Regions from separate parts of the Homo sapiens genome. Here region 2 is linked to region 1. Evidence: fine-mapped expression QTL. A gene starts in region 1. The other region holds a variant in brackets. All regions are shown on one strand. Distances are between the middles of the regions.

Region 1 (10,324 bases):
TTTTCAGGGTACACAATTTAACTCGTAACAAGCTACTTTCAGGAAAAAATTAAGACATTCTTTCCCTGCTCCTTGGACAGGAGAGTCTAACATGAAACAAATCTCTATAAAGAGTTGGTTGCCCATTTTTATAGCCTTTCCTCCCTCCCTACCCCCAGGGAAGTGGGCAGAAAAACGCCTGCAGGTGGAGGTGGGAGCAGCAAGATGATCCACACCTGGGCCCTATTTTCCCCTCTAACTTGGCCTTGTGCAAAGGGACAAGCTTCACCTGAGCTGAGTTTCTTGGCACAGCTATTTGAAAACAGCATTCTGAGTGTTCCCCATTCCACACTTCACCAAGGTTAAGACCTCAGAAGCATAAACAAAAGCAACCAACTACAATTGAGGTTTTACCCAAGGGGCAGGACTGATGCAAAGCAGACGGAGAATGACTCCACTTGAGTAGGGAGAGGTGGAAAGTCTAGGAGGGCTTCATGGGGGCAATGGCTCAGCTGGGTGTAGAAGGTGAGTAGCAATTTGCCAGTCAGATTCACAACAGGAGGTAAGAAACCAGAAGTATCCAGGCACCTACCCTTGTGACTTCTACTTCTTTGAAAACTTCTCTTCCCTTAGCACCTGTGTAATTACAACATCCAGAATCTCTTTCTGCTTCTCTGTCCAACTTACTGGTCCTACTTCATCAACTGGAGGCCTGTCCCAGGGTTCCATCCTTGGTTGACTCTCAGCTCTTAGCCATTGGACAATTTCTCCCTTCCCTAGGTTTCAACCACAGCCCCTCTGTAGGACATTCTGAGGTATCTGGCTTCTAACCTGTGATCGTTCCTAAGTCTCAGTCCCATGTCATCATACTGTGCACTGGGCATCATTGTTAGCACTATCATGTCCAAAACAGAACTCTGTATCCTCCCCTCCTCATCCTGCATCCAAGGCAACTTCCTTTCCAACTTCCCTCTTATCTAGCTTATCTGACATTACTTTGGGCTTGAGAACCTTATAATTTTGCCTGCCTTCTGTTAGTTCCAACATTTAATCAAGCAACATACGCTGATTTATCTTTCCTTTGAAATCATCGCCCTTTCTCTGTCATTTCCAAAGTTCGATCCAAATGTAAGTTTCATGGTTGGATTAGTGCAGTAGTTTTCAAAGTATGGTCCCTGACCAGTACCATCCATTTCACCTGGGAGTTTGTTATGAATGCAGATTCCTAGGCCCCCACCCCAGGCCTACGACTTCATCAAAAGCTGCATCATCTGCATTTTTTTTTTTTGAGACAGAGTCTCGCTCTGTTGCCCAGGCTGGAGTACAGTGGCATGATCTCAGCTCACTGCAACCTCCGCCCTCCCAAGTTCAAGCAATTCTCCTGCCTCGGCCTCCTAAGTAGCTGGGACTACAGGCATGTGCCAACACACCCAGCTAATTTTTTTTTTTTTTTTTGAGACAGAGTTTCACTCTTGTTGCCCAGGTTGGAGTGCAGTGGTGTGATCTCGGCTCACCACAACCTCTGCCTCCCGGGTTCAAGCGACTTTCCTGCCTCAGCCTCCCGGGTAGCTGGGATTACAGGCATGCACCACCATGCCCGGCTAATTTTGTATTTTTAGTAAAGACTGGGTTTCTCCATGTTGGTCAGGCTGGTCTGGAACTCCCAACCTCAGGTGATCCGCCTGCCTCGGCCTCCCAAAGTGCTGGGATTACAGGTGTGAGGCACTGCACCCAGTCAAATGTTTGTATTTTTAGTAGAGATGGGGTTTCACCATGTTGGATAGGCTGGTCTGGAACTCCTGACCTCAAGTGATCCGCCCACCTCAGCCTCCCAAAGTGCTGGGATTACAGGCGTGAGCCACCGTGCCCAGCCAGAAGCTGCATTATCTGTATTTCAATAAGCTCTCCAGGTGATGTAGAGGCACATGAGAATTTGAGAACCACTGGATGAATGCAACCATCTCCCACGATTCCAACACAATCTATCCCAGCTGTGGCTACCATGTTAATTGACCTACAGCCTTATTACCAGGTCTCTGTTCTAGAACCACCAATGGCTCTCAATTTCCTGCCTCATGAAGCCTGACCTCCTCCACTTAGCTCTTCAAGCTTTATCTGCCACTCCATCTCTTCAAACTTGTTCTCACTAGACTCCCTAAGACATTCACATTTTGCACTCTAGCTGTAAAAACTTGTTGACTTTACAAGCACCATGCCTTTGCGTATAACACCTGCCCACTCCCACTCACCCACCCTGACCCCACCAGGGTTGTATTAGGAACTTTAGAAATCCTGAACAGTTGGCTCACGCCTGTAATCCCAGCACTTTGGGAGGCCAAGGTGGGTGGATCACGAGGTCAGGAGATTGAGACCATCCTGGCTAACATGGTGAAACCCCGTCTCTACTAAAAATACAAAAAATTAGCCGGGCGTGGTGGCGGGCGCCTGTAGTCCCAGCTACTCAGGAGGCTGAGGCAGGAGAATGGCGTGAACCCGGGAGGCGGAGCTTGCAGTGAGCCAAGATTGTGCCACTGCACTCCAGCCTGGGCGACAGAGCGAGACTCCATCTCAAAAAAAAAAAAAAAAAAGAAAAAGAAACCCTAACAGTGAAAAGTGGCTGGTGCCTCTCTCCCATGTGGAAACAAAAATAAATACAATACTTAGCTATAAAATAACCGTGCAGAAGTCAACCAAATTACCGATTCTTTCCCATAATGATTGGTTTGCTGTTTTAAAAATATATTTATCGGCCGGGCACAGTGGCTCACACCTGTAATCCTAGCACTTTGGGAGGCCGAGGCGGGCAGACTTCCCTGAGCTCAGGAGTTGGAGACCAGCCTGGGGCAACATGGTGAAACCCCGTCTCTACTAAAATACAAAAAAAAAACACCCCAAAAAATTAGCCAGGCGTGTGCCTGTAGTCCCACCTAGTCCCTGCCTCTCCCTCCTGAGGCAGAATTGCTTGAACCCAGGAGGCCGAGGTTGCAGTGAGCCGAGATGGTGCCACTGCACTCCAGCCTGGTAACAGAGCGAGACTCCATCTAAAAAAAAAATATATATATATATATAATTATATATATAATTCCTTGTAAAAAGTGGCCGGGCGTGGTGGCTCACGCCTGTAATCCCAGCACTTTGGGAGGCCAAGGCGGGCGGATCACGAGGTCAGGAGATTGAGACCATCCTGGCTAACATGGTGAAACCCCGTCTCTACTAAAAATACAAAAATCAGCTGGGTGTGGTGGCGGACGCCTGTAATCCCAGCTACTCAGGAGGCTGAGGCAGGAAAGTCGCTTGAACACGGGAAGGTGGAGTTTGCAGTGAGCTGAGATTGCTCCACTGCATTCCAGCCTGGGTGACAGAGTGAAACTCCACTTCAAAAAAAACAAAAAAAAAAAAAAAAAAAGAAATTCTTTGTGAAAAGTGATTTTTGATGCCACTCTTGCTTTCCTAGTTCTCCAAACTCATGCTCAATACATCTGCTGATTAATCCAGTTCTGCCTTTGTGGATCTAAATCCCACTCACCATTGAGTACTCTGCTCATTTTATAAGTGAAATTGGATAAATGAATGAATGAATGAGCAGGCTAGTCTACTCAGTCAAAGGGAAGACGTTTTGTGTTTTATTTCTTCCATTTTTACCTTTTTGGTACCTGTATAGTAGATTAATAAACCCTGACTGACGGCCGGGCGTGGTGGCTCACACCTGTAATCCCAGCACTTTGGGAGGCCCAGGCGGGCAGATCACCTGAGGTCAGGAGTTCTAGACCAGCCTGGCCAACGTGGTGAAACCCCGTCTCTACTAAAAATACAAAAATTAGCCGGGTGTGGTGGCGGGCGCTTATAATCCCAGCTACTCGGGAGGCTGAGGCAGGAGAATCTCTTGAACCCGGGAGGCAGAGGTTGCAGTGAGCGGAGATCTCGCCATTGCACTCCAGCCCAGGCGACAGAATGAGACTCCGTCTCAAAAAAACAAAACAAAACAAAACACCCTGACTTCAGGGTCCCTGTTTATTGCCCCTTTGATCAACAGGTGCTGTGGACAGTATACCAGGTATATATTTTTTTCTTTTTTCTTTGATACGGAGTCTCACTCTGTCGCCAGGCTGGAGTGCTGTGGCGAGATCTAGGTGCACTGCAACCTCCGCCTCCCGGGTTCAAGTGATTCTCCTGCCTCAGCCTCCCGAGTAGCTGGGATTACAGGCACGTGCCATCACACCCAGCTAATTTTTGTATTTTAGGTAGCGACGGAATTTCATCATGTTGGCCAGGATGGTATCCTGACATCGTGATCTGCCCGCCTCGGCCTCCGAAAGTACTGGGATTACAGGCGTAAACCACCGTGCCCCGCCTATATATACAGGCCTGAACCCGGGAGGCGGAGGTTGCAGTGAGTCGAGATCGCGCCACTGCACTCCAGCCTGGGCCACAGAGCAAGACTCCGTCTCAAAAAGAAAAAAAAATTAATAAATAATAAATACAGCAATTCAGCAGGGCTGCTGCAACACCAGCTTTCCCAGCTCTGGGTGCTGGGGCTTGTCTCCGTCACAAGCCCCCAAGGATCTCAACAGGGTGAACAACAGTTGCAGAAAGTGAGCTGTTGCCTTCACCCTCACCCTGCTGCTCCCTTTGCTCTCCGAAAGTTACGAACTTTGAGTTTCCTTCCCGATAAACTCCAAGGTTTCCTCACTGATTGGTCTCAGTTTGGGAAAGGACGTGACATCAGCAAGTTTGCAGACTTGGGGCTGGAGAGTTAACCAGTATATTACTAACCAATATACTATTATTTATAAGAACCTGTGTGCAAATGCCTAAACCCATTTTTCAGAATCCTTTCAGCCAACAGGCACCTGCTGAATGCTCACCGAAGTGTGTATTTGTGGGATTCTGTACATTAGCACAGACACCACTTGACAGATGAGAACAATACCTGTAAGATGATTCTCCAATGTTTTAAGTAAAACAAAGTCTCTTTTGTCTCTTTTGAAAGTGACTCAATCAGTGCTCAATGTTTGAACATCTTTATAAACCCTGCCCCACCTAAATGCCAAACACCTAAGACTTACAAATTAAAAAGTTTTAGCATTAAAAATTTTCCTATTTATAAGTAACTTTCAAACCTCCAATTTAATAAATAATGCATTTGACCCACAAAGAATGATTCCTGGGAGCTGAAATTTTCACTGGAGAATAATTTGTGACAATTGAATTTGTCTTGTCTGTAGGATTCTGCAGAAAGAAGTATACACATTTTTGAACAGCTGTGTAAAGAATATATACCAGTGAGCTGTGGACATCTGCCCAGTAACAGCCCCATGGACACCTCACACAGAGCCACTGAAACTGCCCAACCCTCCTCTCCTAAGCACATTAGCCAACCTCCCCAGGGCTGATTCCACTGCCCCTATGACTCACCGCCCATCAATGGGTTTGAAAGAAGCCTGATGCCAGGAAAGTCCCTTGGCCCCGCGGGCTTGCTCCCATCCATGCCCCCTTGTTTGCCATCCATGATGCTCTCTCCTAAGCGAGCAAGCTCTGCGCTCCACTTCAGTTGCTCAGCAAAGTCCAAACTCCATGCTCCCCCTGCTCCTGAAAAATTCCAGTTCTGTGGCTGGCTGAGCTGCACACGTTCTGGTCAAATGGTCTGCAGCAAAGCACAGAGCAGGCAGGGTAATCTGAGTGCTACCTGTGATCAGAGAGAGGCATGCGCTCGTGTACACACACACACACACACACACACACACACGTTTTACCTAACTGGCTGGAGGCCCGCCAGAGGCCACAAGAACCCTCCAGCCCTAAGTCTGCGAAGTTGCTGATGTCACGTCCTTTCCCAAACTGAGACCAATCAGTGAGGAAGCCTTGGAGTTTATCAGGAAGGAAACTCAGTTTGTAACTTTTGAGAGTGAAGGGAGCAGGGTGGGGGTGAAGGAAACAGCTCACTTTCTGCAACTGTTGTTCACCCTGCTGAGATCCGTTTGTTACATGGTAGCTTGTTATGGAGACAAGCCCGAGCACCCAGAGCTGAGAAAGCTGGTTTTGCAGCAGCCCTGCTGAATTGCTTGCACAGTAACATGCACAGCACGCCCTGGCCATCTGTACATGTGCTTTCAATTGTGCTGGGAGTTTCTTATGGGAAATGTGTCTATATGTTACAAAAAATGTACCTTTGGAAAGAACCATTTGTTCCTTTCAGCTGCAAGAATTTCACTAAATGTCCTACCTCACCCCTCCTCCACTCATTTTAACTTCTAAATAAATAATGAACGGTTGCAATTGGAAAAATGGATTGCTAGGTGGCCTGAGATGTGGAAGAGACCTGCTATCTTTTCATTGTGAATTACTAAAATTTATTTTGTTAACGTTTTGCTGTTTTTGCTTATACAAAACATTAGGGGCCGGGCGCGGTGGCTCATGCCTGTAATCCCGGCACTTTGGGAGGCCAAGGCGGGCGGATCACGAGGTCAGGAGTTTGAGACCAGCCTGACTAACATAGTGAAACCCCGTCTCTACTAAAAATACAAAAAAATTAGCTGGGCCTGGTGGCAGGCGCCTGTAATCCCAGCTACTCGGGATGCTGAGGCAGGAGAATCGCTTGAACCCAGGAGGCAGAGGTTGCAGTGAGCCGAGATCATGCCACTGCACTCTAGCCCAGGCGACAGTGCGAGACTCCACCTCAAAAAAAAAAAAATTTGGATGTACTGTGTCCATGTCTTTTCAGATAAACCCAGTTGCCTCACACCCCTGGGTGCTACTTCAGGCTGACAGGCACCTCTAGACTCCCACCATTCCTCTCTTCCAGGTAGAAGAGGATTTTTCATCCCCATGGGGGAAGGCTCTGAGTTAAGTCTCAAGCATAGACTGGCTGTGAAGTGATTGCAGATTTGTCTTAATGCCAAAGATGAGGCCTAGATGTTTTAGATTTACGGAGTCTCAGTTAAAACATTTGGTGGCTGTTATTAACAGTTTGAGGGGTGTAATTCACGTTTTTAAAGGCATTTATATGCATACACATGTATGCACATTTATCAATTTACATTTTCCACATAAATGTACCTATATTATTCTTTTTTTTTTGAGACAGGGTCTCACTTTGTCACCTGGACTCGAGTGCCATGGTGTCATATCGGCTCACTGCAACTTTCACCTCCTGAGCTCAAGCAATTCTCCTGCCTCAGCCTCCTGAGTACCTGGGATTACAGGAGCGCACCACTGTGCCCAGCTAATTTTAGTATTTTTAGTAGAAACAGGGTTTCACCATGTTGGCCAGGCTGGCCTCAAACTCCTGATCTCACGTGATCCCCCTTCCTTGGCCTCCCAAAGTGCTAGGATTACAGGCGTGAGCCACCGCACCCGGCCCCTATATTATTCTATTATTCTATGCTTTTTACACTTATTTTGTCTGTGAGAGCTTTCCATATCAGCTTTTATAGGTATGCTCCTGTCTTTATTCACTGTTGCATAGCATTCCATATTGTGCCAGAAGTATTTAATTATGCTCCTAATGATGCAAGCAGAATGTCATTATTTCTGTTAGTACTATGAAAGGACTAAAGTTCATATTTTTGTACATGTGGCTTTGTGCACATAGGCAAATATTTCTAGAGGAGAGATTCCTAAGAGTGGAAATGCTAAGTCAAAGGCATACTTATGCACATGTAATAAATTGTATAAAACTGAAGACACACACAGGAATGAGTACAAGTAAAACCGGGGAATTGAATAAGATCAGTAGATTGTATGAATGTTGATTTCCCAGTTACAATATTGTACTATAGTTTTGCAAAAAGTCACCATTGAGGGAAACTGGGCAAAGTGCACTGGAGATCTCTATGTGATTTCTTACAACTGCATGTGAATCTGTAATGATCTCAATACAAATTGCACTTTTTGAAAAGAGGCTGCTCATTTAAAATTTGGATAAACACTACTAAACTTCCCTCTATCTCTATTTGCAGAATTAACTGAGAAGGCCATAAGCATACAAATTCTTTACCACTCCATCAGGAAAGATCTGAAGAATGATACATTTGTTTGGCAGAGAGTGAGGAATTGATTCCCAACACAGACTGGATGAGGAGTTGAACAGAAGGGCACAATGGGGAAACTGGATACTATTTCCTTTCCTTCCCAGTAAAATCTTTGTACTACAGCTTCTTTATTTACTTTTAATTAAATTCCAAGTAGATAAGCCTTTTCCATATTCAAAATTAAGTTCCAAAATGACAATAAAGAAGATTTCCAGGTTGTTTCCCTAGTACCTGGGAGGGAATTAATTCATCAGCCTTTAATCTTCTCATTTTATTTATGATGTTGATCAACACCAGTGAATAGGAGGATTGGAGATGAATTTTTAAACTGTTTAACAACAGTTCTTTACAAGGGGAGTTCATGCATTTGTGGATTTGTATGAGGATAAAGTTGAATCACATGTGTATGAGCTTTGATTATGGAGAAATTGGTTGGCTTACCAACAGCCATAAGAGAAAAGCAATCTTACCAACTTCTAGTCAGCCTTGGTGTGTGTCAGTGTGTGTGTCTGGATGTTCAGTGAAATTGGCACAGGTTAGGTTAGAAAACAGAATGATCGTTGCCTGCAGCAGATGATAAGGCCACAGTCATTCCTCACCAGGAGCAGTGTTCACACTAGCCAGGGCCTCTGCCCCACCCCTCACTTAGATGTCCAAGGCACACCTCAGGTATGGTTTAGGAGACTCTTTCCTCCCCAATGTAGCCGGCTCAAGTCCAGCTGCTAAGAGGCTGAAAACTTAAGAAGCGAGAGGTATGGTGAAAGGAAATCAACTTTATCTAAATGCTGCTGAGAGATGAAGCCAGCTGGAATTCCTGGGTGGAGTGGGGACTTGGAGAACTTTTGTGTCTAGCTAAAGAATTGTAAAAGGACCAATCAGCACTCCATAAAAACCCACCAATAGCGCTCTGTGTCTAGCTAAAGGATTGTAAACGCACCAATCAGCACTCTGTAAAAACGCACCAATCAGTGCTCTGTGTCTAGCTAAAGGATTGTAAGCGCACCAATCAGTACTCTGTAAAAATGCACCAATCAGCACTCTGTGTCTAGCTAAAGGATTGTAAATGCACCAATCAGCACTTAAAAACACGCCAATCAGCGCTCTGTGTCCAAAGGATTGTAAATGCACCAATTAGCACTCTGTAAAAACGCACCAATCGGTGCTCTGTGTCTAGCTAAAGGATTGTAAATGCACCAATCAGCACTCTGTAAAATGGACCAATCAGCGCTCTGTAAAATGGACCAATCTGCAGGATGTGGGCGGGGACAAATAAGGGAATAAAAGCTGGCCACCCCCCCAGCCAGCAGCAGCAACCTGCTCGGGTCTCCTTCCATGCTGTGGAAGCTTTGTTCTTTCACTCTCCAGAATAAATCTTGCTGCTGCTCACTCTTTGGGTCTGTGCCACCTTTAAGAGCTGTAACACTCACCACAAAGGTCCATGGTTTCATTCTTGAAGTCAGCAAGACCAAGAACCCACTGGAAGGAACCAACTCCGGACACATTACCAGTTGGAGAATGGCCTGCCTTTGAAAGACCGTTCCAACTTTTTGGGCTGAGTGAAGGGGTTTATGGAGGAAAAAGGTGTGGGAAAATGTGGGAATATCAAGGGAGGGAAGAGCTCTGTGTGTCTCTTTCCCATGGCTATCTTTACTAATCGCCAGCCCGGAAGTCCAGTTTGTGTCATCCTCACTTCTGCCCGGTAGTGGTGGGCTAACTGTTCATAACTCCCCCAAGCAGGAGGATTCTGCTGCTGGGTCTCTGTGCCTTTTTTTTTTTTTTTGCTTAAAAATTGACCCCTGGAATTTCTAAGCAAGCATGTAATTAGATAAGTGAGCACTGTTCACAAAAGTGCCTGGTGGAAAAGAGAGAAACAAAGAGTTTCAAAGTATGTTTCAACGCTGAAAGCAAGAAAGAAAAAAAAAAGTTTTAAAATGCATTTTGAGGCTGGGATGCTCAGTTACACTGAGACCTTGGGGGAGCCTTCAAAGTCACTTCCAATCAGTCAAAGTTGGTCCAGGAGCTGAAGCTTCTTCTTATTTCAGCTGGCAATTTTTCTAGCACAAAACCTTTAACACCTAAAAGGTATACATCTGCTCTGACAACGTGGAATACTCTGCTTCTACTGCTTTAGAGAGAAGTCAGTCAGTCCTACTCCGCCAAGCAGTACGATAAGACTCAAATAAGAATGTGTTTTTTCAAAAATCTGGCATTATGCAGTATTCTTGAGGAAACAATCAGGCGGATCAAAATTGAGAGATAATCACATAACAATGGGACTGGACTCTTCAAAAATGCCAATGGCATGAAAGTCAAAA
Region 2 (10,324 bases), 27 kb after region 1:
AAGCACTGCAGACATACTTAATTAATTCAAACCATTCTCAGTACTTATCAATTTTTAAACATTTGTATGGAAATACAAATAATATTAATTTTTACTTCAAAAATTTACTTCAAATCAATATTAAATTTTTAATAAAGACTTTTTGTAATACCAGCACTTTGGAAGGCTGAGGTGGGTGGATCACCTGAGGTCAGGAGTCTGAGACCAGCCTGGCCAACATGATGAAACCCTGTCTTTACTAAAAAATACAAAAATCAGCTGGGCACTGTGACAGGTGCCTGTAATCTCAGCTACGTGGGAGGCTGAGGCAGGAGAATTGCTTGAACCCAGGAGGTGGAGGTTGCAGTGAGCCGAGATTGTGCCATTGCACTCCAGCCTGTGAGACAGAGCAAGACTCTGTCTCAAAAAATAAAAAAAAAATTTAAAAAAATTAAAAAAAAAAGACTTATATGGCTGAGCACGGTGGCTCATGCCTGTAATACCAGCACTTTGGGAGGCCGAGTCAGGTGGATCACCTGAGGTCGAGTTCGAGACCAGAGTGGCCAACATGGTGAAACCCCATCTCTACTAAAAATACAAAAATTAGCCAATTGTGGTGGCGGGCACCTGTAATCCCAGCTACTTGGGAGGCTGAGGCAGGAGAATCGCTTGAACCCAGGAGCCAGAGGTTGCAATGAGCAGAAATCATGCCACTGCACTGCAGCCTGGGCAACAGCACGAGACTCTGTCGAAAAAAAAAAAAAAAAGAAAGAAAGACATTTATATCATTTCCAAAGTAGTTCATTACTCTACAACTTAAAGGACTTACATGATGTTTGGGAAATGACTAACATCAGCTATTAATTAATAAATATGTATTAAATACATTTAGAACATAAAATACATAGATAAATTTAGATTTGGGTCTTTTGCATCATTTAAAGTAATCCACTGGAAAAAATTGGCAAGTGACATGTTTAATAACCTGGAACAAATCTTTCACTTTTGCTTTTTGAAATAAAATATTTCATCTCCAGTTACACCAGCAAAGATCACTATTCTAGAGTGTTTTAACTTCACCATTGTATTTCTGATCTCAGTATAAGAGAACAACTCCCTCACTTGCTATCATCAAAATGTTGCTCTTTGGGTGTGACCTTTGACAAATGGCCTTCTCCTTTCAGTGGCATCTTCTCGGTTCAGGTCTAGTCTGTACATACAGTCTTTAAATTCCTTAAATTTACTATTTTCCTTCACTTGGAAATTAACTGACAACACAGGAGTCTAGAGTCAGCTTCAAGATTACCAATGCTATACTTTGGAAAGTTGCAGCCTTTTCTTTTCAATAACTATGACCTTGAAGTCATCAGCCCATCTAGATTGTGTAACTTATTATGAACGGTTATATTTACTATTCCATTAGAGATAGTATCAGCCTTGGCTTTCAGATACTTTCATAGTTTATTTTAGGTTAGTGGTTGGTATTTTATGGGCTTTAGAGGATAAGCTATTCTTGCCTACTAAGGACAGAGACATAAGCATAGTACAATTCAGGGAAGTCAGAACTACTGCCTTGGCTGTACCAGCTGCCACCAAAACACCAGCAAAGAGGATCTGGAAAGGCCTGCCAATAGACCATCCCCAGGAAATGGGAAATTGGAGTCAGGAAAGCATTCCGAAGTTATAAGTAGGGCTCTTTTGTGCCACACTGGTATTTCCTGAAGATTTAGGCAAATTGAAGTTACTGCTGTGGGATTTCTAGGCCACACATATTCTAATGGTGAGGAAGATCAGGGTCACCCTTGAATGACTAACACTAGACCATTGATTCATACAGATTGGAGTGAGCCCATCAATGTTTCACATGCATTGTGGTGGCTCATTTACCTCTCTTCACTGCCTCATGGATGGGCGAGGCCAGGTGCACCTCCAACTGGGCCTTGGCTCCGAACTCCAGCAGCACATTGACACATGCAGCACTGCCGCTGCAGCAAGCATTGAAGAGGGGTGTGGCTCCGTGAACTGTCACTCCATTGACCTAATGATGGGCAAAGAGAGACCCAAAGGATTTGTTATTTCATTCTCACCATCTCCAAGTATGTCTTCCTATGTATTTGCCTAGAGGAATTCCCCACGCTGGTGAATAAGTGAGGGAACTCCACATCTTTACAGTATTATGAAACCTCATGAAGTTATTGGGTGGATCGAGCGAGTTACTATATGTAAACACTTAAAACATTACATGTCACCCAGTAAGCACTCAATAAGCATTTGCAACAACAATTATTTCCATTTTCCATTTTCCATTAATATGACTCCCCTCTGAATCATGAACAAACATGGCAGGCTGTGGTCCCAAAATCCATGCTTACAAAATCCTTGGCAATTCTCCACAGATCTACTGTCTTTCTTGCCACAACTTCCTCTCTGGTCTACTATAATCCATGCAAATTACACATGCCAGCTGTTACTTCTAGAGATAGCATGACCAAGCCAAAGGGACATAGAAAATAGCCATCAACATTTTCTTAATCCAGTCTATCATTGTTGGACATTTGGGTTGGTTTCACAGGAAGGGGAACATCACACACCGGGGACTGTTGTGGGGTGGGGGGAGGGGGGAGGGATAGCATTAGGATGTAAATGACGAGTTAATGGGTGCAGCACACCAACATGGCACATGTATACATATGTAACAAACCTGCACGTTGTGCACATGTACTCTAAAACTTAAAGTATAATAAAAAATAAAAATAAAAATAAATAAATAAAATTAAAAGATTAAATTTAAAAAAAGGAAAGAAAATAGCCATCAACATGGTGTCTGCAACCATCTTTGGTACCTTGTAGGGATGTGGGAAGCACATGAGAACCAGCAGGGCTGGGAGACATCTTTGTGTATCAGCAATAGATTGGAAAGAACATCGGGAACCGCAGGAGTGGTAGGGAGCCTCTGATGCCATTGAAATATAGGACAGTCAAGTTTGTGATGTGAAACAATTTTGCTTCAACAACTAAGGATGCATGCTTGTGATAATCAGGATTCTAAATGTCCTTGCTTTGGACACAAAAAAAGACTTGTTTCCAGAGTTGCAATATAACCCGTGAAACAGGGTCTTGCTCTGCTATCCAGGCTGGAGTGCAGTGTCATGATCATAGCTCACTGCAGCCTCGAATTCCTAGGCTCAAATGATCCTCCTGCCTCAGCCTCCTGAGCAGCTGGGACTACAGGCGTGCACCACCATGACCCACAAATTTAGAAAAATTATTTGTAGACAGCGTCTAGCTATCTTGCCCAGGCTGGTCTCAAACTCCTGGGTTCAAATGACCCTCCTGCCTCAGCCTGCCAAAGGGCAGGGATTACAGGTGTGAGCCACCACACCCAGCCTAACCCCCATTAAATTGGAAAGTTAAAGATAATATGCTAAGATGGCAGAGACAGACAAGGTCAGGGGAAAATGTGTGTAAATTTATATTGCTAGGGGTTTCTATATTTTTACTAAAAAATATTTGGTAGGACTAGTTTGATTTGTGTTTTACTAAGTTTCATCCTCACCCTCAGTCTAGGAAGTTGTCTTCTTATGCGATTTCCTATAAATTTCTCTTAGTTCACGTCAACAAACATTTATTGAGCATCTACTAGGTGCTAATGTTTTGGAAACAATGATAAGACAATTGCCTCTCCTTGAGTGGGCTGAACAATTGCCTCTCCTTGAGTAGGCTGAATTCCATTAGGGAAGACAAATACAAAAAGAATTTTTTTTAATTTTTTTATTTTTTAGATGGAGTCTTGCTCTGTTGCCAGGCTGGAGTGCAGTGGTGTGATCTCGGCTCACTGCAACCTCCGCCTCCTGGGTTCAAGAGATTCTGCTGCCTTAGGCTCCCAAGAAGCTGGGACTACAGGCGCGTGCCACCATGCCTAGCTAGTTTTTGTATTTTTAGTAGAGACGGGGTTTCACCATGTTGGCCAGGATGGTCTTGATCTCTTGATCTCATGATCTACCTGCCTCAGCCTCCCAAAGTGCTGGGATTACAGGCGTGAGCCACTGTGCCTGGCCAAAAAGAAATCATTTTGAAAATATAATAAATAATTTAGATGACTATGGGAGTAGGATAAAGGAGAGGATAGACTTGGGAAAAACTTAGAAAGTAAAATTAGCAGGAGTTTTTAATTAATTAGATAGGGAGATGAAAGAAATAAGATGACTCTCAGGTTTGCAGCTTGGGAAACCAAGAGGATGTTTCTTTCACCAGGCCTCTGAAACTAGGAACCCAAGATGAGGAGCAGGTCCCAGAGGGAA[G/A]AACATGATAAGCTCAGTTACAAATGCACTGAGTTTGAGGTATTCATGGGACTGCCAATTGTGGGGGACTTTCTACTGATGGACCAACTTTCTCTTATTTCGTTTCTCATTCTGATTTAAATGTTAAATGGTGTGCTACAGTATTTATTGGCTGTTTCTTTATAAAATTGACAAAGACAAGGAAACATGTCTTATTCTTCTCTTTGTGCCCAACAAAACCTCCTCTCTGACCTGATATTGTCAGCAGTCTGCCTGTGACTCCAGTCATCTAGCTTGAAAGGAAACGGCTCTCACACAGCCTTCCTTCATCATTACCCATGAGCTGACTGAGTGGTAACTTAGAGAAGCACTACCTAATGAAAATGCATGACCACTTGGCAGGGCACGGTGGCTCACGCCTGTAATCCCAGCACTTTGGGAGGCCAAGGCGGGCGGATCACCTGAGGTCAGGAGTCTGAAACCAGCATCGCTGGTTTCACTAAAAATACAAAAATTACTGCACTAAAAATACAAAAATTAGCTGGACGTGGTGGCGGGCACCTGTAATCCCAGTTACTCAGGAGGCTGAGGCAGGGGAATCGTTCGAATCTAGGAAGTGGAGTTTGCAGTGAGCTGAGATTGTGCCACTGCACTCCAGCTTGGGCAACAGTGTTAGTGAGACTCTGTCTAAAAATAAAAAGATGGAAAAAAAAAAAACAAAAAAAGAAAATGCACGACCACAATGGCATCAGGAAAATTAGTTTTCACAAGGAAGACTTTTATATTCAGTTCTACATGTAGAAACCCGATTTCCATATAAAATGTTTTAAATTGTCATTAAGCACTTAAAAACATTGCAGCTCATAAAGTAAATAATGCAAGGACTGAGTTAAACAACAAAATTAGAAACAAAGAACATCTGGCAACTAAACACAGAAGATTTTTAGAAGTTGTGATTTTATGATTCTATTCTGATATCTGTATTATATATTGCACCTCAGTCACCCTTTGAAAAAAGTTTGGAGATAAATTTAAAATAAGATAAAGTTCAATTCTGTAGGTTTCCCCCAATGTATTATTTATTAAAAGCTCGCTCATTTTGATAATTTTGCTCAATAAAAATAGTTGTTCATTTAAGGTGTTGAATTAAGAGTGTTTTCTATTGTTCTTTAAAATCTTGTTATTAAGCCTCATACAGTGTTAGTGGGATTATAAATTAGTACAACCATTATGGGGAACAGTTTGGAGGTTCATCAGAAAACTAAAAACAGAGATACCATATGATCCAACAATCTTACTGCTGGGTATATACCCAGAAGAAAGGAAAACAGTATATCCAAGAGATATCTGCACTCCCATGTCTGATGCAGCACTGTTCACAATTGCAAAGACCTGAAAGCAACCCAAGTGTCCACCAACAGATGAATGCATAAAGAAAACATGGTACAAGGCCGGGCGCGGTGGCTCACGCCTGTAATCCCAGCACTTTGGGAGGCCGAGGCAGGTGGATCACAAGGTCAGGAGATCAAGACCATCCTGGCTAACACAGTGAAACTCTGTCTCTACTAAAAATACAAAAATTAGCCGGGCGTGGCGGCGTGTGCCTGTAGTCCCAGCTGCTGGGGAGGCTGAGGCAGGAGAATGGCGTGAACCCCGGCAGAGCTTGCAGTGAGCGGAGATTGTGCCACTGCACTCCAGCCTGGGCGACAGAGTGAGACTCCGTCTCAAAAACAAAACAAAACAAAACAAAAAAAAAACATGGTACAATAAAGATTTCTTAAGGTCAGCAACACAGTTTTAAAAGGTTCCTGTGAGTTGCCATGTCTGAATATTTACACACAGGGGGGTAAGTTGAAGAGAGAGGAGTAGCCTAAATGATGGAATACGGACATGGATAGAACCAGCCCAGCCCTTACCCACAGTGGGTAAGCCATCTGGAAGGTAAACTATCATTAAACATTAACAGATGCATCTGGCCAGACAGACCCAAGTGGGCAGGGGCAGTACTCACGTGTGCACCATTTTCCAATAAGGCTTTGGCACAGGCCACGTGACCTCCAAGGCATGCCTCGTGGAGAGAAGACACCCGGTTAATTGTCACAAGGTTCACATTGACACCCTATAATTTAGAAAGAAGAGAGTTTATTTATTTTTTACAGACTGGGGTCTCACTGTGTTGCCCAGGCTGGTCTCAAACTCCTGGCCTCAAGTGATCTTCCTGCCTCAGCATCCTGAGTAGCTGGGATTTCAAGTGCAAGCCACCAAGCCCAGCAGAAGAGAGTGAAATACTGCATTAGTGATAGCAATGAAAGCAATGTTGTTTCACATGTTTCTGACATTTTCACAGTCTGTGGGTGTAATATTAGTACCATAGAGAGAGAAGTAGAAGTTACGATCAGGGGAGCCTAAAGACAGCATGACAGCCTCACATTCATTTATCCAAAAGAATGTTAATTCTGCATTCTGGAGCAGGTAATGTACTAGGACCTGGGTCTTCAAAACTTATGACATGGGTCTCTCTTCTCCCAGAGCCTACTGGGGAGGCAGAAATGAAAGACAAAAGAGCAAGAATATTGCTATACTGGAAGCATGTCCAAAATTAGTTTGGGAGCATAGGATATCCTTGAATCTGGCTTGGGGAGTAAGAAAAACCTTGCAAATGAGGTAGTATTTAGCTAAGACTTGAAGCATAAAATGTTTCAAGCTGTGAAGACCAAGAAAGAGTATGCCATTAGGAGAGAATAGAAACTGCAAATTCAGGAAGCAACAGGAAGTTATTTCCTGTTGCTTCCTGTTGCTTCCTGTGGCAGGGCCACAGTCGGATTTCTGGAACAGAAAGAACCCACAGAAAGTAGAAGCAGGAGATGGGAGGAGACAAAGGAGGACAGTAAGCTGGAGCTAGGTCATGAAAGGCCTTGATTTCCAAACAAGGAGGGCATGTCTTAGAGGAAATGGAGCACCTATGAAGTCTGCTAGGCTGCGGAGGGTCTGGAGCTAATAGATTAGCCTTTTTAGAAGCTTACTGGTAGCAGCATGGAGGGTTGATTGCAGGAGTAGGGATGTAAGACCAAAGCAAGGAGAGCCACAGAGATGTCACTATGAGTCTAGGAACAGGCTGGCATGGGCCTGCTGTGGCTGTGAATAACAGTAGGTATGAGGTATAGATGATGGAGTGCAGACAAGTTCAGGAGGTCGAGCTGGATCTGAAACAAAACAATAACTCCCAGGCTTAAGAGTAAGTAGACTGTGCTCCTAGGATTCATGTGCTGTGGAGTAGCAGCACTGCTTCAGCCATGACTCCACTGTGTGCAGAGGTCTCTGAAGTCCTAGAGTCCGGGGCCAGCGGACTTCTCCTAACCTTCATCTCCTCACCCAGGTATGAGTGCCTCCACCCTGTCCTAACACATTCTCCCTCCCCATACTACCATGTGTCCCCTTCCTTGTCCTGGACTCCATGTGACAGATGACAAGGTCAGCCTAGCTGCTGGACAACTCTGACTTCATAACCTGATTTTAACAACTTGGCTCTTACCATTTCCCTCCCTCTGATGATCACGTTCTATCTGCAAAAGTGTTGACAAAAACAGTCAAACTATAAAATATTTGAAGAGATTTATTCTGAGCCAAATATAAGTGACCAATGGCCTGTGACAAGCTCTCAGGAGATCCAGAGAACATGTGCCCAGGGTAGTCAGGGCACAGCCTAGTTTTATACATTTTAGGGAAACATGAGACATCAATCAAATACATGTAAAATGTACATTTGTTTGGCCTGGGAAGGTTGGACAACTCAAAGTGGGGGCCTGGGGCTCCAGATTATAGACAGATTGAAAATTTTTCTGATTGGCAATTGGTTGAAAGAGTTATTATCAATAGAAATGTCTGTCTGGGTTACAATAAGGGGTTGTGGAGACAAAAGTTTTATCATGTGGATGAAGCCTCCAGGTAGCAGGCTTCAGAGAGAATAGATTGTAAATGTTTCTTATCAGACTTAAGGTCTGTGTTGATGTTAAATTCTGGTCATCTTTTCCTGAGTTCCAAAAGGGAGGAGGGTATAATGAGGCATGTTCAACCCCCCTTTCCTGTCATGGCCTGAACCAGTTTTTCAGGTTAGTTTTGGAATGCCCTGGCTGAGAGGAGGGGTACATTCAGATGGTTGGAGAGGGGGTGCTTAGAATTTTATTTTTGATTTATAAAAGGAATTAGGTCCCTGGTCTGTCCTTCCCAGCCGAGTCCTGCTTTTGATCCTATGCCTTGTAACTGACCAACTGAAAGCTTCCAAAACCCAATGCCATGACCCTGAACCCCGAACTCCTACTTACACGGCCACCATCTCCTGCCAGATCTCTGGCTGCATCCTTGCTGTGGCCAGCAGCTGTGATTTCCCAGAATTGTCCCTTCATCATAAGGCCTCTTTTTGACTCCTGAATTCTGTCTATTTTCATGTCCTGAATATGACATCATTACTCTAGATCTGTGCTACATATTTCAAACTGGGCATCTAATAAGAGTTAGAAAAAGTCTTTTCATTTTTCTTTTCCTTTTGAGAAAATAAGAAAAAACAGACTAGTCCACAAGGTGGCAGAAGTGTGCTAGAAAAAACTGTTACGGTGCAAAATCTCAGAATCCCTGAAATTGTAGAAATGTGATGCTGGAAAGGCCTGAAAGATCATCTAGAGTGGATCACCTCAATTGTGCATGAGAAAATGGAGGAGTAGAATGTTCAAATACTTTTTAAGACTGGTTGTCAGTGACAGCCAGCAGTGTAACCAAGAGCTCCTGAATCTTGGTTTAATGTTTTACTCACATTTACTCACATTAGCTTAATGTTTTACTCATATCGGTTTAATGTTTTACTCACATCGATCATATTATCTAAATGTAAAATAAAGTTTATAAAAGTAGACAAATACATTTTTTAACAGTGTATAAGAGTAAAGAAGTAGGGGTGTAAAAGAAAAAGTTGAACTTTTGTATAAAGAATGCCCCCTTACACATTTAACCATATTATTGAAGCTAATATGCTTATTAAGTATAGTTAGTGCAATGTGGGATCCTGGAACAGAAATAGGACATGAGAGGAAAAACTGGTGAAATCACAATAGTGTGCAGTTTAGTCAGTGGTATTGTATCAATGTTAACTTCGTATTTTTGACTAATGTACCATAGCTATGTAAGATGTCAATATTAAAGGAAGTTGGGTGAAGGGTACAGTGTATATGGGAACTGTCTGTATCCTTTTCAACTCTTCTTTAAAATTATACAAAAATTTAAAAAGCCTATTAAAAATATACCAATGAAAGTATTGAGGTGGGAGACTGAGAGAGAAGAGGTGGGTGGGAGACTGAGAGAGAAGAGGTGGGTGCAAGACGTTTCATTGTGCACCTTTTTAATTTTATTTATTTATTTATTTTATTGAGACAGAGTTTCACTCTTTCACCCAGGCTGGAGTGAAGTGACGCGATCTCGGTTCACTGCAACCTCCACCCCGCCAGGTTCAAACGATTTTCCTGCCTCAGCCTCCCAAGTAGCTGGGATTATAGGCGCCCACCACCACGCCTGGCTAATTTTTGTACTTTTAGTACAGATGGGGTTTCACCATGTTGCCCAGGCTGGTCTCGAACTCCTGACCTCAGGTGATCCACCCACCTTGGCCTCCTAAAGTGCTAGGATTACAGGCGTGAGCCACCACATCCGGCCAGTCCACCTTTTTAAATAATTGTAATTTTTGAACTATGTGAATATATTACCTATTAAAAATAATCAAATCACATCCAATTTAAAGTACTTAAAAATAAATAAGCAAGTGATAAAATCAGGTACAAAGTTCATTTGATCATTGCTGGCAGTGCTGATTTCCATTTACCTCTACTTTTTAAGAAGTAACACAACTCATAAAGGAGAAATCAAAAAACAAATAAATGAAAAATACATACACATGCACACACAGACAGAGAGAGAGAGACAGAGAGAGAGAGAGAAAGAAAAAGAGAGAGAGAGAGCAGTGCACCCAGTGGTTTAAATTCAAAGTAGCAAGAAAGCCAGATGATTGCCTAGTTGTGGAA

Evidence for each region. PIP is the estimated chance that this variant, and not a neighbour inherited with it, causes the effect.
Region 2: its variant is fine-mapped to the expression of ASB9 in whole blood (TOPMed, PIP 0.99).

What each region holds. Positions count from the first base shown.
Region 1 is chrX:15,264,387-15,274,710 of GRCh38, forward strand. It overlaps ASB9 (ankyrin repeat and SOCS box containing 9), which reads right to left and starts at 5,697. Exons shown (of 7, transcript NM_001031739.3): 1 at 5,395-5,697. The coding sequence starts at 5,488.
Region 2 is chrX:15,291,304-15,301,627 of GRCh38, forward strand. ASB11 (ankyrin repeat and SOCS box containing 11) reads right to left here. Exons shown (of 7, transcript NM_080873.3): 3 at 6,271-6,378; 4 at 1,867-2,017. Among named protein-coding and RNA genes, the nearest start is that of ASB11, 19 kb to the right of the region's middle. RefSeq lists an enhancer at 6,924-7,218. The variant G/A (reference allele first, on the strand shown) is at 4,281.